Regions from separate parts of the Homo sapiens genome. Here all the other regions are linked to region 2. The links come from fine-mapping of genetic effects on gene expression. Tissue or cell type: whole blood. Region 2 holds a variant in brackets; each other region holds the start of a gene. Each region is shown on its reference strand, or each on the opposite one.

What was found. PIP is the estimated chance that this variant, and not a neighbour inherited with it, causes the effect. A credible set is the group of variants that fine-mapping cannot tell apart.
Region 1: it holds the start of RGS18, and the variant in region 2 is the best candidate, but not a certain one, in a credible set for the expression of RGS18 in whole blood (TOPMed, PIP 0.73).
Region 3: FKBP8 starts here. The variant in region 2 is fine-mapped to the expression of FKBP8 in whole blood (TOPMed, PIP above 0.99).

What each region holds. Positions count from the first base shown.
Region 1 is chr1:192,156,293-192,160,533 of GRCh38, forward strand. RGS18 (regulator of G protein signaling 18) reads left to right here and starts at 2,170. Exons shown (of 5, transcript NM_130782.3): 1 at 2,170-2,464; 2 at 2,928-3,029; 3 at 4,086-4,147. The coding sequence starts at 2,346.
Region 2 is chr17:35,555,958-35,560,198 of GRCh38, forward strand. SLFN14 (schlafen family member 14) reads right to left here. Exons shown (of 6, transcript NM_001129820.2): 2 at 3,770-3,848; 3 at 1,046-2,149. The coding sequence starts at 2,105. Among named protein-coding and RNA genes, the nearest start is that of SLFN14, 2.7 kb to the right of the region's middle. The variant T/C (reference allele first, on the strand shown) is at 1,828.
Region 3 is chr19:18,541,202-18,545,442 of GRCh38, forward strand. It overlaps FKBP8 (FKBP prolyl isomerase 8), which reads right to left and starts at 2,372. Exons shown (of 9, transcript NM_012181.5): 1 at 2,285-2,372; 2 at 478-794. The coding sequence starts at 769. RefSeq lists an enhancer at 125-625 and a silencer at 2,188-2,617.

The sequences.
Region 1 (4,241 bases), not on the chromosome of region 2:
TTCACTTATGCCCATATTTTCTTTTCTTTTTCTTTTTATTTTTTTGTGAGGGGGATGGAGTCTTACTCTGTCGCCCAGGCTGGAGTGCAGTGGCATGATCTCGGCTCACTGCAACCTCTGACTCCCGGGTTGAAGCAATTCTCTGCCTCAGCCTCCCCAGTAGCTGGGATTACAGGCACCTGCCTCCACGCCTGGATAATTTTTGTATTTTTAGTAGAGATGGGGTTTCACCATCTTGGCCAGGCTGGTCTTGAACTTCTGACCTCATGATCCACCTGCCTCAGCCTCCCAAAGTGCTGGGATTACAGGTATGAGCCACCGTGCCCGGCAACTTGTGCCCGTATTTTCACAATTTCTTTTTCCACGGTTCTATCAGCATTGTGTATAGCACACTTCACACATAAATTTAACATATCTTATGAAAAATAATATATTGATTTTATGTCTTTAACTTCTCTGAGTTAACAGTTAAGTTATAGTCCTAGTGACTGGATGATGTCCATGCTCCTATGATTTTCTCTTGTGCTCATTCACCTTCATAGGATTAAACTGATATAAACACAGTGGATACTAATCATTACTAGGGGACAGCAGGGTGGAAGCATAATCTGCATTATCAGTATCCATTTCCAGCAGAAGCTCAATGCAAAATGCCATCATACATAATATTTTTCAATTCTCAGCCAAGGTGAGAGATTTAAAATATGTTCAAAGTACAAGTCATGGAATCAGGGGGTATATGTATAAATATATACTAGAAAGTCTTTAATTTCATATAGATAAATGTTTTGAGCTTTTAGCTGGTATCCCTGATAAATTGTCTTGGTAAAAAAATAATTCAAAAAGACTGAAAATAAAATTTTCTTTTAGGTTTGTATAACTCAGCTTTCAATATATACCATTTTAGATTAAAGCATTCACTACTGGAGATCAAAGATTCTTGGAAGGACTAAAGCACATAGTAGGTGATCAAAGGCTCTGATAATTCCAGATTTTCCACTGGCCTGTCTCTGAAACTTTGTAGGATTAAATTACCTAATGCCTGTGAACTTTGGTTTATTTTTCAATAAAATTTGAATTATGGACTAGAACTGCATTTGTAAGACTTTTGTATTCTATAAAACAGTGAAAGAAGTGGAGGCTAAACCAATTGGAGTTGTCAACATTTTTTTTAATAAAGGCATTAAAATATAAAAACTACCATCTCTACTTAATCCATGTCATTATAAAGAACATTTTTACATTATAAAGAACATTTTAACAACAAAAGAGTCAGGAGAGCAAATTCAAAATAGCAAGTCCTTTATATCAAAGGAATTAAAATAAAGCTTTAAGAAAAAAAACTTTTCATATTTTTTTCCATTTCATCACAGACTGATAAAAATTTCAAAAATGTCTAAAATCATTCTATAGATATGTGCTTAAAACTTTATTTATTTATTTGAGACAGAGTCTTGCTCCGTTGCCCAGGCTGAAGTGAAGTAGCCGGCATGATCTCAGCTCACTGCAACCTCCGACTCCCAGGTTCAAGGGATTCTCCTGGCTCTGCCTCCTGAGTAGCTGGGACTGTAGGTGCACACCACCGTGCCTGGGTAATTTTTTGTATTTTTAGTAGAGATGGGGTCTCACCATGTTGCCCAGGCTGGTCTTGAACTCCTGAGCTCAGGTAATCTGCCCACCTTAGCCTCCAGATTACAGGCATGAGTTACTGTGCCCAGCCCAAAACTGTTAAATTAAATGCTTTCTACAATCTTTTTTTAACCATAAAATTCTGATCTATTGTCTTATTTTGTTACAATATGTTAAGCCAATGTAATTAACATTACATAATCTTATGTCAGTTAAATGTGATTTACTTAACTCATGTAATAACAATAAGAAAAATACTTTTTTAAGAACTGGAGAAAATATCTCCTAATGTTTGATATAATACTTTGCCATAACACATTTTAACACACAGTCCACACATTTAAAAACTTTTTGAAAAGTTCCTGTGGGAAATGACAGTGTTATTTGAGTCTATTAAAGCATCATTCTGGTTGCGCAAACTTGAACGAGAAGTTGCACTGTGGTAAGACTAGTCTTTATCTTAGAGACCAAGAGTCATTTTGCAAATTTGTGGTATCATTTCCCTAAACAACTTAGGACCAAATTGTACTTCATTTCCTCAGTTCTGCATTTCTGCAGAGACAGAAAGAAACGCAGCTCTTGACTTCTTTTTTGTAAACATTACTGTAAGAGTTGTGATAACTTTTTATTCTACTATGTATATGTATGGAATAGTATTAATAAATGAACTAGGGAAGGATGTAATAAATTAGACATCTCTTCATTTTAGAGAGAAGATGGAAACAACATTGCTTTTCTTTTCTCAAATAAATATGTGTGAATCAAAAGAAAAAACTTTTTTCAAGTTAATACATGGTTCAGGAAAAGAAGAAACAAGCAAAGAAGCCAAAATCAGGTAAAATTGTACAATTTTAAGTCAGCCTTATACTTTTAAAAGCATAATTGAGGTTGAAGATTCATTACCTCTTGTTTTTGAACTATTGGGTGGAAAATATATTGTTTGTATTGCTATAATTTGGGAAAAAAAAACACCTTTTTATTTCTTAGGTTTAAACAACAAACTGAAATCTAAAGTGTTCTCATTAAAAAAAAAGTGTAATAATGTTAGCCACATAGAGGAACTAGTGCAATCTTTATTGAAATATAATCTCAAATACTTGATTGTCGGTGAGCAAAAGGAGAAACATTTTCGTATGTTACCCTAATTCCTCCACAAATACAATATTTAAATGGGATTCATGAGTGTGTGGGTATGGGTGGGCGTGGGTTTTTACCAACTACAAAATTTTCTGGTAGTCAGCAGGAGAGATTTTAACTGTCATCTAAATTGTCCTGACATGAAGGCCTTTTTATTACAGAGCTAAGGAAAAAAGAAATAGACTAAGTCTTCTTGTGCAGAAACCTGAGTTTCATGAAGACACCCGCTCCAGTAGATCTGGGCACTTGGCCAAAGAAACAAGGTGAATAAATTTTCAGTATTTTGAGGAAGATTTTGCTGATTCTATCATTAAAGATTTAAGAAAAATGCAGTTAGGGATTTCTGATTTATTGAAAATTACACAGCAATATAAGGAAAGTTAGAAATTTCATTTGAAGAGACTAGAAATATTTCATAAAATTAAATCACTTGAATTAAATCGCTTGAATTGAATAATCACGTGAACACTTAAAGCTGCTCTTTTAAAATTATATACCTGTCAGTTTTAAATGACATGTTTTACTCCTTATAACCTGATAAAATGCTCATTAATTTAAGAGTTTTCACAATGCAATATTGTCATAGCAGAGAGATATTCATCTCTTTCTTCAGTAGTTTGAAAAAACACACGCATTATAGCAAGTAAAGCACAAATAATGTCTTTTAATACTTAGCATTTATTTAATTCAAAAAGAAAATGCAAAAACCTTATATACTAGTTTCATACAAATTCTTCCAAATTAGAGTATAATAAAAAAGATCCGAGAAAATATATTCAATTCTCCACATTACCAACATCTCTAGAATATTTTTTCTATTAAAATATCTTATATTTCTTATCCCTTTGAAACTTTATTAGTCAAACTTCCTGTATCCGTTTAAAAAAAAAATTTGCAGCCTAGTGTGGTTACAGCTTCAAGGAAATTGCAGTATAATTTTTTTTTAACTGAAAGATACTGTGAGTTTAGTTTTTTTCTACTTGCTGAATTTAAACAGATAGTTGACCTGATTTCTTTATATTTGTTATCTGTGCCCTTTAACCTAAAAAAGGATTAATTTTTAATTAAAAAATAAAACTCACATATCCATGAGAAAAAAAATAATGTTATTTCAACACATTATTCAACAGACAAATTCCAAAAGAAAATTGAACAATGTTTTCAAAGTTTCTAATGTAAATGCAATTTTCATTATATTATAATCAAAGGAGAAACTGTGAAATATAATTGAAAAGAGCAGTAAAATAGCATATGTTAGAACAGATTCATAAACAGACTTTCTGCACACTCCATTATAAAACATTTTGTTTCTTGTACAGAGTCTCCCCTGAAGAGGCAGTGAAATGGGGTGAATCATTTGACAAACTGCTTTCCCATAGAGGTTAGTGGTACTTTCACCAAATACTTTGTGTGCTTAATGGAAAATTACACAAACTATGCATGTAATTATCCGAAACAATAGGTCACAAAATTTT
Region 2 (4,241 bases):
AACAATTCAAATTTGTCAACAATGTTTTGCTTGAAAGAATTAGTGGAGTAGTGGAGTCATTTATTTTTATTTTTTTATTTTTATTTATTTATTTTTTTGAGACGGGGTCTCGCTCTGTTGCTTAGGCTGGAGTGCAGTGGAGTGATCTTGGCTGACTACAACCTCCACCTCCCAGGCTCAAGCAATCCTCCCACCTCAGCCTCCCATGTAGCTGGGACTACAGGCATACACCACCACGCCTGGCTAATTTTTATATTTGGGGGAGAGATAGGGCTTCGCTATTTTGGCCAGGCTGGTCTCAAACTCCTGGGCTTAGGCAATCTGCCCACCTTGGCCTCCCAAAGTGCTAGGACTGCGCCCAGCCTCAGAGTTATTCTTAAACAGTGTTTCTCTAGAATATCATCTCTAAAATGAGGCTATTCCAATTTTGACTGGGATGATCAGCCTGCACAATTTTTTCAACAGGTTTATAGACAATAAAAGGAGACCTTTCCTAACTCATTGCTGATGGCATACTGTAACTTTCCTTTAAAAGTTGCTTAGGCTGGCCAGGAGTGGTGGCTCACACCTGTAATCCCAGCAGTTTGGGAGGTGGAGGTGAGTTGATCACTTGAGGTTAGAAGTTCAAGACCAGCCTGGGCAACATGGCAAAACCCCATCTCTATTAAAAATACAAAAATTAGCCGACATGGTGGTGTGTGCCTGTAATCCCAGCTACTTGGGAGGCTGAAGCACGAGAATCACTTGCACCTGGGAGGTGGAGTTTGCAGTGAGCCGAGGTCACACCACTGCACTCCAGCCTGGGTGACAGAGTCTAAAGAAAAAAAAGTTGTTTAGGCCATAGAATCCAAACATTTCTTGACCTCAGTTTATATTCTGAGTCTTTGGAACTAAAAATGTTAGATAAGGAACACTGTAATGGGAGAACACTTATAAGAAAAATAAATTTCTATTTTTTAACTAACATATGTGATCAAATACCCACAAAAGGCAGAGAAAGGGGTTCCTCCCTGCTGATGGGGACAATGACTTCACTTCCCTTTACCTGACTGAGTATCCAGCATCATGACCACCCACTGCTCAGCTGTCAGCCGTGTGACAGAATTGTCTTTCATGATCCAGGAATCTGGGGCCTCTGCAAACACCACGCAACAGAAGGGCTCCACTTGAATCACACAGACATAACCATCCAGGACATCTTTTTGGTACACATTCAGGATTTTTGTAGTGAAATTTACCTTTGGCTTCTCACAGCAGAAGTGGAATGTAGGCAATTTTTCTATGCAGTTTTCGATTTCTTTTTTTAGTAAGTCAGGATTCACTTTTTCCCACTTACATCCAACCACTTCTTTGCTCTTATCATCCACCCCAATGAGGACATATCCCCCTTGAGTGTTGGCAAATGCAGAAACATAATGAGGCAGCATTTCCTTAATCCGAGGTATGACTTTTTTGGTGGTGAACCTTTTAAATTCAACATGTGTTGACTCAGTAAAGTTGAGTTTCTCCTTATACATGAGTTTGTCCTTTTTAAAAAATTCTGAGGCCAATATCCTCATATCTTCCTCTTCCTGAATGCATCTATTGAGAACCTGCTGAGGATGCAACTTCTTCACCCTTGGTCTTCCTCTTTGGGCTCTAAACCCCTTCTCTCTGAGAAGCTCCAGGGCACTGCTAGCACTCAAGTTGATAGCAGAAGTCACATCTCTCCGATACAAATTGGAGCGCAAGCTGCAAATCCTTAGTGGAAGGCTGAAAACATCTGGGCTCCATGACTTCACAAAAATCAGGAGATTGTGCCCCTGCTGCATGTAGTCAAGGTATTTC[T/C]GTGAACCTGAAGGAAGGAGCTTTTGAAAAGAAGTTTCCAAATCCTGTCCCAGCCCATGGCATTGGTAACTATAGGTTTTATCATCAATCTCTGCTTTGATCACACCACCTCCAGAATTTAACAGTGCACATATAGCCCGGATAATTCTAGAATTCTCAGATCTTTTCAAACAGCTGTTGGTCATCTTCTTCCTGTTTTCTTCTCCAAAAATCACTCTGCCCACATCTACTATTACCTCAGGATACGGCATTTCAGTATCAGTCTTGAGACTCTCCATTTCAGCAGCCCCTCTGTGCTCCAAACAATAAAAGAAAGGAGTTCCTATAATCAGGACAGAAATATTGTTTCTATATTAATAAGAATTCCAAAGATTACAATATTTTCTTCAAAACTATCAATTACTGGAGATATATTTTAATGTTGGAAGTCATCTCTCTCTATATGTATATTTGTTGTTGTTGTTTGTTTTGGGTTTTTTAGTTTTGTTTGTTTGTTTTTGAGATAGAATCTTGCTCTGTTATGCAGGTTGGAGTGCAGTGGCACAATAATAGTTCTCTGCAACCTCAACCTCCCAGTTCAAGTGATTCTCCAACTTCAGTCTCCCTAGTAGATGAGACTACAGACACGTGCCACCAAGCCTGGCTAATTTTTTTTTTCTTTTTTGTTCTTGCTATTTTTTTTTTTTAAGAGATGGAGTCTTGCTACGTTGCAATCCTCCTGCCTGGGCCTCCCTCCCAAAGTGCTGGGATTACAGATGTGAGCCACCGCACCCAACTGGAAATTATCTTTGATACTGCTGTTTTCTAATCACTTTGCCAAATATCCTTAGCCTTGCCAGAATAAGTAGGCATGGATAAAGGTGAATGCCTAATATTTGTCATAATGGAAAAATTAAATTGCTAACATTTTCAGCCATTTTGCATTTCAAATCAGGAAACGCCAACACTGAGCCCAGATATAAAGGGCATGGGTTGGCACAGGAGCCCAGGAAGGTATTGGAGAATATGCAGAAATAGAAGTTGAAGTGAGAAGATGCTCTTATTTATAATTCAAAAGGGGAAGAAAGGAAGGCACTAGAGAACTAAGGAAGTATAATTTTACAGTATATGTACTGTAGAAGATCTTGCTATAAACACAAACATAGGCTGGGTGTGGTAGCTCACATGTGTAATCTCAGCACTTTGGGAGGTGGATGTGAGAGGATTGCTTTCGATCAGGAGTTGAGACCAGCGTGGACAACATAGCAAGACCCCATCTCGACAAAAGATAAAAAAAAAAAAAATGTTAAACATTAGGCAGGTATGGTGGTGCGCACCTGCAGTCCCAGCTACCTAGGAGGCTGAGGTGGGAGGATCTCTTGAGCCCAGGAGTTTGAGGCTGCAGTGAACCATGATCGCACCACTGCACTCCAGCCTGGGCAGCAGAGTGGGAACCTGTCTAAAAAAATAAAAATAAAAGTAAATAAATAAAATTCTATATTTTTATGTATTATTTCATACACTTTGAAAAGCTTTATTTTACTCCTGAAAGAATGTCAGTTGATACCAAATGCAGAAACCTTTTCAACTCTTCACATGTTCTAAATCTCAAAAGTACATTGCCTCATATACAGTGTGATGTGACAGCAGCATTTTCCTTCCCTTCTAATAGTTCTGCCCTGTGCTGTGGAAACCCCTAAGACTTGGAAAAGAACATGAGCTTTTGGGGCATGGTAACTAAACCATTGTCACCCTTCTTTTGCTTCCTAGACCAGAAAACAGCCACCTAAACTGAAATTTGAGCTCTGAAACAAATATTTCAGAAAAGATCTGCTTACCTTTAGTCAATTGCAAAACAAAATATTTGCTAACTCAACCAAAATTCTTCCTCTAGGAGAAGAGAACCCATCTTTCTGTGTGATCTTTGCAAAGCAGGGGCCCTGTGGGCATTGTATATACTCACCAAGAGGAAGAAAGCAGGCATCCGGCAAGACATGTGCACTCCCCTGATATCAATTTGTTCTTGGTTGCCTTCTCACTTCCTTCAGGAAAACCAGAATCAACCTGGGGAATTCTTTTTAGAATGTGAGCCTCTTCTATAGGTACATGTAAATGTAGTATTTTATGGCTCCTTAGGGAAATTTCCCATAACATTCTATTTATATCATAGAATCACAGAAGTGTTGGAAAGGACTTTAAAGATCCTCCAGTCCAACAATCTATAGGATTCTAAAATCTCCTCTATAATATTGCCAACTCCCAACAAGTTGCAAACCTCCAGCAATGAGCAACTCACTACCTATCAAATAGTCCCTCTAGTCCCTTCTAATTTCTGACGTCTGTGTTAGAAATGGTCTCCTTACTTTAAGCTGCAATTTGTCTCCCCATAACTTCCACTGATGGGACCCACAAAACAAATCTAATTGATTTTGAAT
Region 3 (4,241 bases), not on the chromosome of region 2:
CACTACTGTGAACCAACCAGAAGGCTGAACAAAATAACATTCCTCTGATCCACTTGACCCCAGAACACATTTTTTGTTTTGGAAGTTGGGGTCTCGCTGTGTTGCCCAGGCTGGCGTGCACTCAGGACACATTTTTCAGAGCCCAAGCATGTGTCAGACAAATGCCAAAAAAAGATGCATTGATGGGGTTAGGAGCTGCCAGCGCCTGGCGTGCTGGCTGTGTGGCTCTGGGCAGGTGACTCAGCCTCTCTGAGCCACTGTTAGCAGATCTGGGAAACGGGGACACAGCACATTGTGCATGTGTGTGAGTCAGTGGATAGAGTACATCAATGTGAAGCATCTCCAGTAGTTGCCTCTGGCTGGTGATCACGGTGGTGACCACGTGACTTCCAACCCTCACAGCACAGATGGGGAAATGAGGCTCAGGGGACGAGAGGGCCAGGGCCAAGGGCACCCTGATCCACCTTTGCTCCTTACCCAGAATGTCCAGCCACTCTTCTGGGGCCGGGGCTGGGGCGGGCTCGGGCTCCATGGCAGCAAGGAACTCTCGGGCCAGGGCCCCAGGCTGCTCAGCCTCCTCCGCCGGGGGTTGTCCCATGTCCTCCAGCGGTGGCAGCTCACTCAGGTCATCCTCTTCCTCCTCTTCCTCCTCCTCTTCCTCCTCACCCTCTGCATCCTCAACCCCATCCAGTACCTCGAAGTCCTCGAGCGGTGGGACCCCGGCGGGCAGTGGGGCAGAGGGCTCAGAGGGTTCAGCACACGATGCCATGCTGCTGGGGGGACAGGAATTGGCCCTGGAAGTGGGGGGCAGAGATGTGGGTCAGAATCCTACACAGCCCCTCAAAGTCTCCACTGTACTGATTCCCCACACTGCCGATCACTTTCTGTGTAACTCAAGGGCTCCAGGCCTCAGTTTCCTCATCTATACAGTGGGTGTAACAACAACCCCAGCTTGTTGGGAGAAATTAACCCATGCATCAAGCCCTTGGCATCAGGCTCAAATAGTGTTAGCCATTATTAGAGCTAATTATTATTTAATGTTTACAAATACTCCAGGAAGTAGGGAAGATTCCCCTCAACATTTTGCAGAACAGGAAACAGGCCAGAGGGGCAAAGGCATTTGCCCAAGGTCACAGAGAAAGCCAAAGGCCAAAGGAGGATTTGAACCTGGGGCTTCAGGCCCTGTGGCTTTGCCTGATTATAAGCTGAGCGAAGGGTGCTGGGATTTTTGTGGAGAGGACAGCCTCCGAGGCCTTAGGGAAGCCATTTTTAGAGCCTCTAAGGCCACTGGGGGAAATTGAATCTTTTACCAGGGCCTCCCACCTCCAGCCTCTTCTCCAAAGGGGAGACCCTCCCCAAAAGCACCAACTGTAATCACCCAGAAACCCCAAGCGTTTTTTCCTTCCACACTCTGAATCTAACACTATCCCCCACAACCCCAACATCAGGGACCCTGGCCCAAATCCTTCCCCAGGAGACCATCCTCCTCTCATCAGGCCTCGGTCCCACCCCCTCAAAGCAGCCTCCTTTCCAGGAGTGGTCGAGGTCCCACCACATTCTACAGCCTCTTCCTTGCCCCAGACCTCCTGAACCAATAACCAACCCCTCCGTCCCCCAGGCCCCAAGCTCAGAAGAGTGTGGCACAGCCATCAAACCAGCCCGCCGCATCCCCTCCCTAACCCTCACCTGCCTGCTCCTCCCGGGCTCGGAGCCCCACTTTGAGAGACCCTCCCAGCCCCCACCCCCATAATTCCCCGCGCCCGCACAATTCGGCCTCCCCTCCCACCCCCCACCCCAACCACCACCGCCCCCAGCACGGGCCAGCTCCCCCCACAGCCGCTCCGTCTCGCCGTAAACACTCCAGTGTCCCCAGACGCCCCCCCCTTTCCGATCCCATAACACCCCACGCTCTCCTGACGCCCCACAGCCCCGGCCGGGCCCTCAGTCAAGCCGCGACCCAGGCCCCCAACGACCCACGCCTGTCTGACGCCACCAGTCTGGGGCACCCGACCCCCGCACGCCTCGGGCGCCCCTGGCCCTGCACGCCTCCATCGGGACCCCCCCACTGGATCCCCTTTGCCCCCAGTGACCCCCATCCCTGGCCACCCCCGCCCGGCCGCGCCCCCTCGGGCACCCCCGACCCCCGTGCCCCCCCGGCTCGCCACCCCCGCGGCCCCTCGCCCCGCCCATCGGCCGCAGCCCCCGGCGCGCTAGCCCCCGGACCAGCCTAGGCCAGGGCAGCGGCCCGGCCGGCACGGCGCCCCCAGCACCCCAGGACACTTGCCTCTGGCTCCGGGACCCCCACTTGGGGTCCTGCGCCCCCCTCCCCGCCCCCAGCCGCGGCCGCCGCGCCTCGGGAACCAGGTTCGGCCGCTTGGCCCCGCCCCTGCCGTGCCCATTGGCCGCCGCTGCCGCGACTGCCGCACCCGTTGGCTCATGCAGACGTCCGTCCCGGGCGTTGGCACCTCCCCCTTCCTGCTTGGCCCCGCGGGGCGTTCTTAAAGGGACCGAAGCCTCCCGGCTGCTGGGGCTGGGGCGGGGGCTGGGGCGGGGGCTGGGGCGGGGGCTGGGGCGGGGGCGGGGGACCCTGGGCTGGACCCCAACACGGGTCAGTATCGCGCAGCCTGTGCGACTCCTGCCTCTCCTCTGAGCTTCATCCTGACCATCTGCGAAATGGGGATAAACACCCCCATCTATGCACTCTCACCTTGGGGGCTGCTGGGGGCACAGTCCACTCTAAATGTTATTTCCTTAAAGAGTTCAAGCTTGACGGGCAGGGCAGCTCTGGGGTTGCTGAATGACCCATCCTGAAGCCTTAGTTACAGAAGTGAACCTGAGGGCCTGAGGAGGAGTGACGTGCCCAAAGGCATACAGAAACCTCCCTCCCATCCCCCACACAGTTTAATGTCTAGAAGGTTGCCTGGTGCATACTGGAGGCGCTCGATTACTGCTGCGCAGGCGACTGAGCCAGCAGGGCCACTGGGAGGAGTTCCTCCTCTATGCACTGTCTGCTGGAGGGTGATAAGGTCCCCATGGCTCGGGAAGAAGGTGGCATCCTTGATTAGCTAAGTTTTTGTGGATCTTGTTTTGAAACCGGGACACTTCTCCCTCCTTCACTCAGTTTTATTTCCTTCCTAGCAGTTACTCCTTCCAGAATTATCTTGTCATTATTTTGCTTGTGGTTGGAGGGACCATCCCTCACTCTGCTTCATCCTGGCAGAGATTTTTACCTGATTTGTACCCAGCACCTCCTTGAACCATGCCTGGCATCTATAGAAGCTCAATAAATGGGTAGGTGGATGGATGGATGGATGGATGGATGGATGGATGGATGGATGAGTCAGACACCAGCTTTTGGAGGTAGCTATCATGGAGGTGGTAACTGGCTTTTTGGAGATCACTTCTAAGGTTGGAGTTCCCAGGTTACCTCCTACAGGAAGCCCTCCCAACCTCCCCAAGGCAAGACCAGGTGCCCCCTTTAGCTGTCTTGGCACAATGAAGTTGATGAACGTCCACTTCATAACTAGTTTACTTGGGTTTTTTGTTTGTTTGTTTGTTTTTGTTTTTTGAGAAGAAGTTTCACTCTTGTTGCCCAAGCTGGAGTGCAATGGCGCAATCTCAGCTCACCGCAACCGCTGCCTCCCAGGTTCAAGCGATTCTCCTGCCTCAGCCTTCCAAGTAGCTGGGAGTAGAGGCATGCACCACCATGCCTGGCTAACTTTGTATTTTTAGTAGACACGGGATTTCTTCATGTTGGTCAGGCTGGTCTCAAACTCCCGACCTCACGTGATCCGCCCACCTCGATGTACCAAAGATTACAGGCATGAGCCATCGTGCCTGGCCTTTTTTTTTTTTTTCTTTCTCTTTTTTTTTTGAGACAGAGTCTCTCTCTGTCGCCAGGCTGGAGTGCAGTGGCGCGATCTCGGCTCACTGCAACATCCACCTCCTAAGTTCCAACGATTCTCCTGCTTCAGCCTCCTGAGTAGCTGGGACTACAGGCACCCGCCACCATGCCCAGCTAATTTGTATATTTTTAGTAGAGACAGGGTTTCACCATGTTGGCCAGGATGGTCTGGAACTCCTGACCTCATGATCTGCCTGCCTCGGCTTCCCAAACTAGTTTACTTATATCTCTGCCTTTTTTTTTTTGAGATAGGGTCTTACTTTGAAACCCAGGCTGGAGTGCAGTGGCACGATCTCAGATCACTGCAACCATGTCTATCTCCTGGGCTCACGCAATC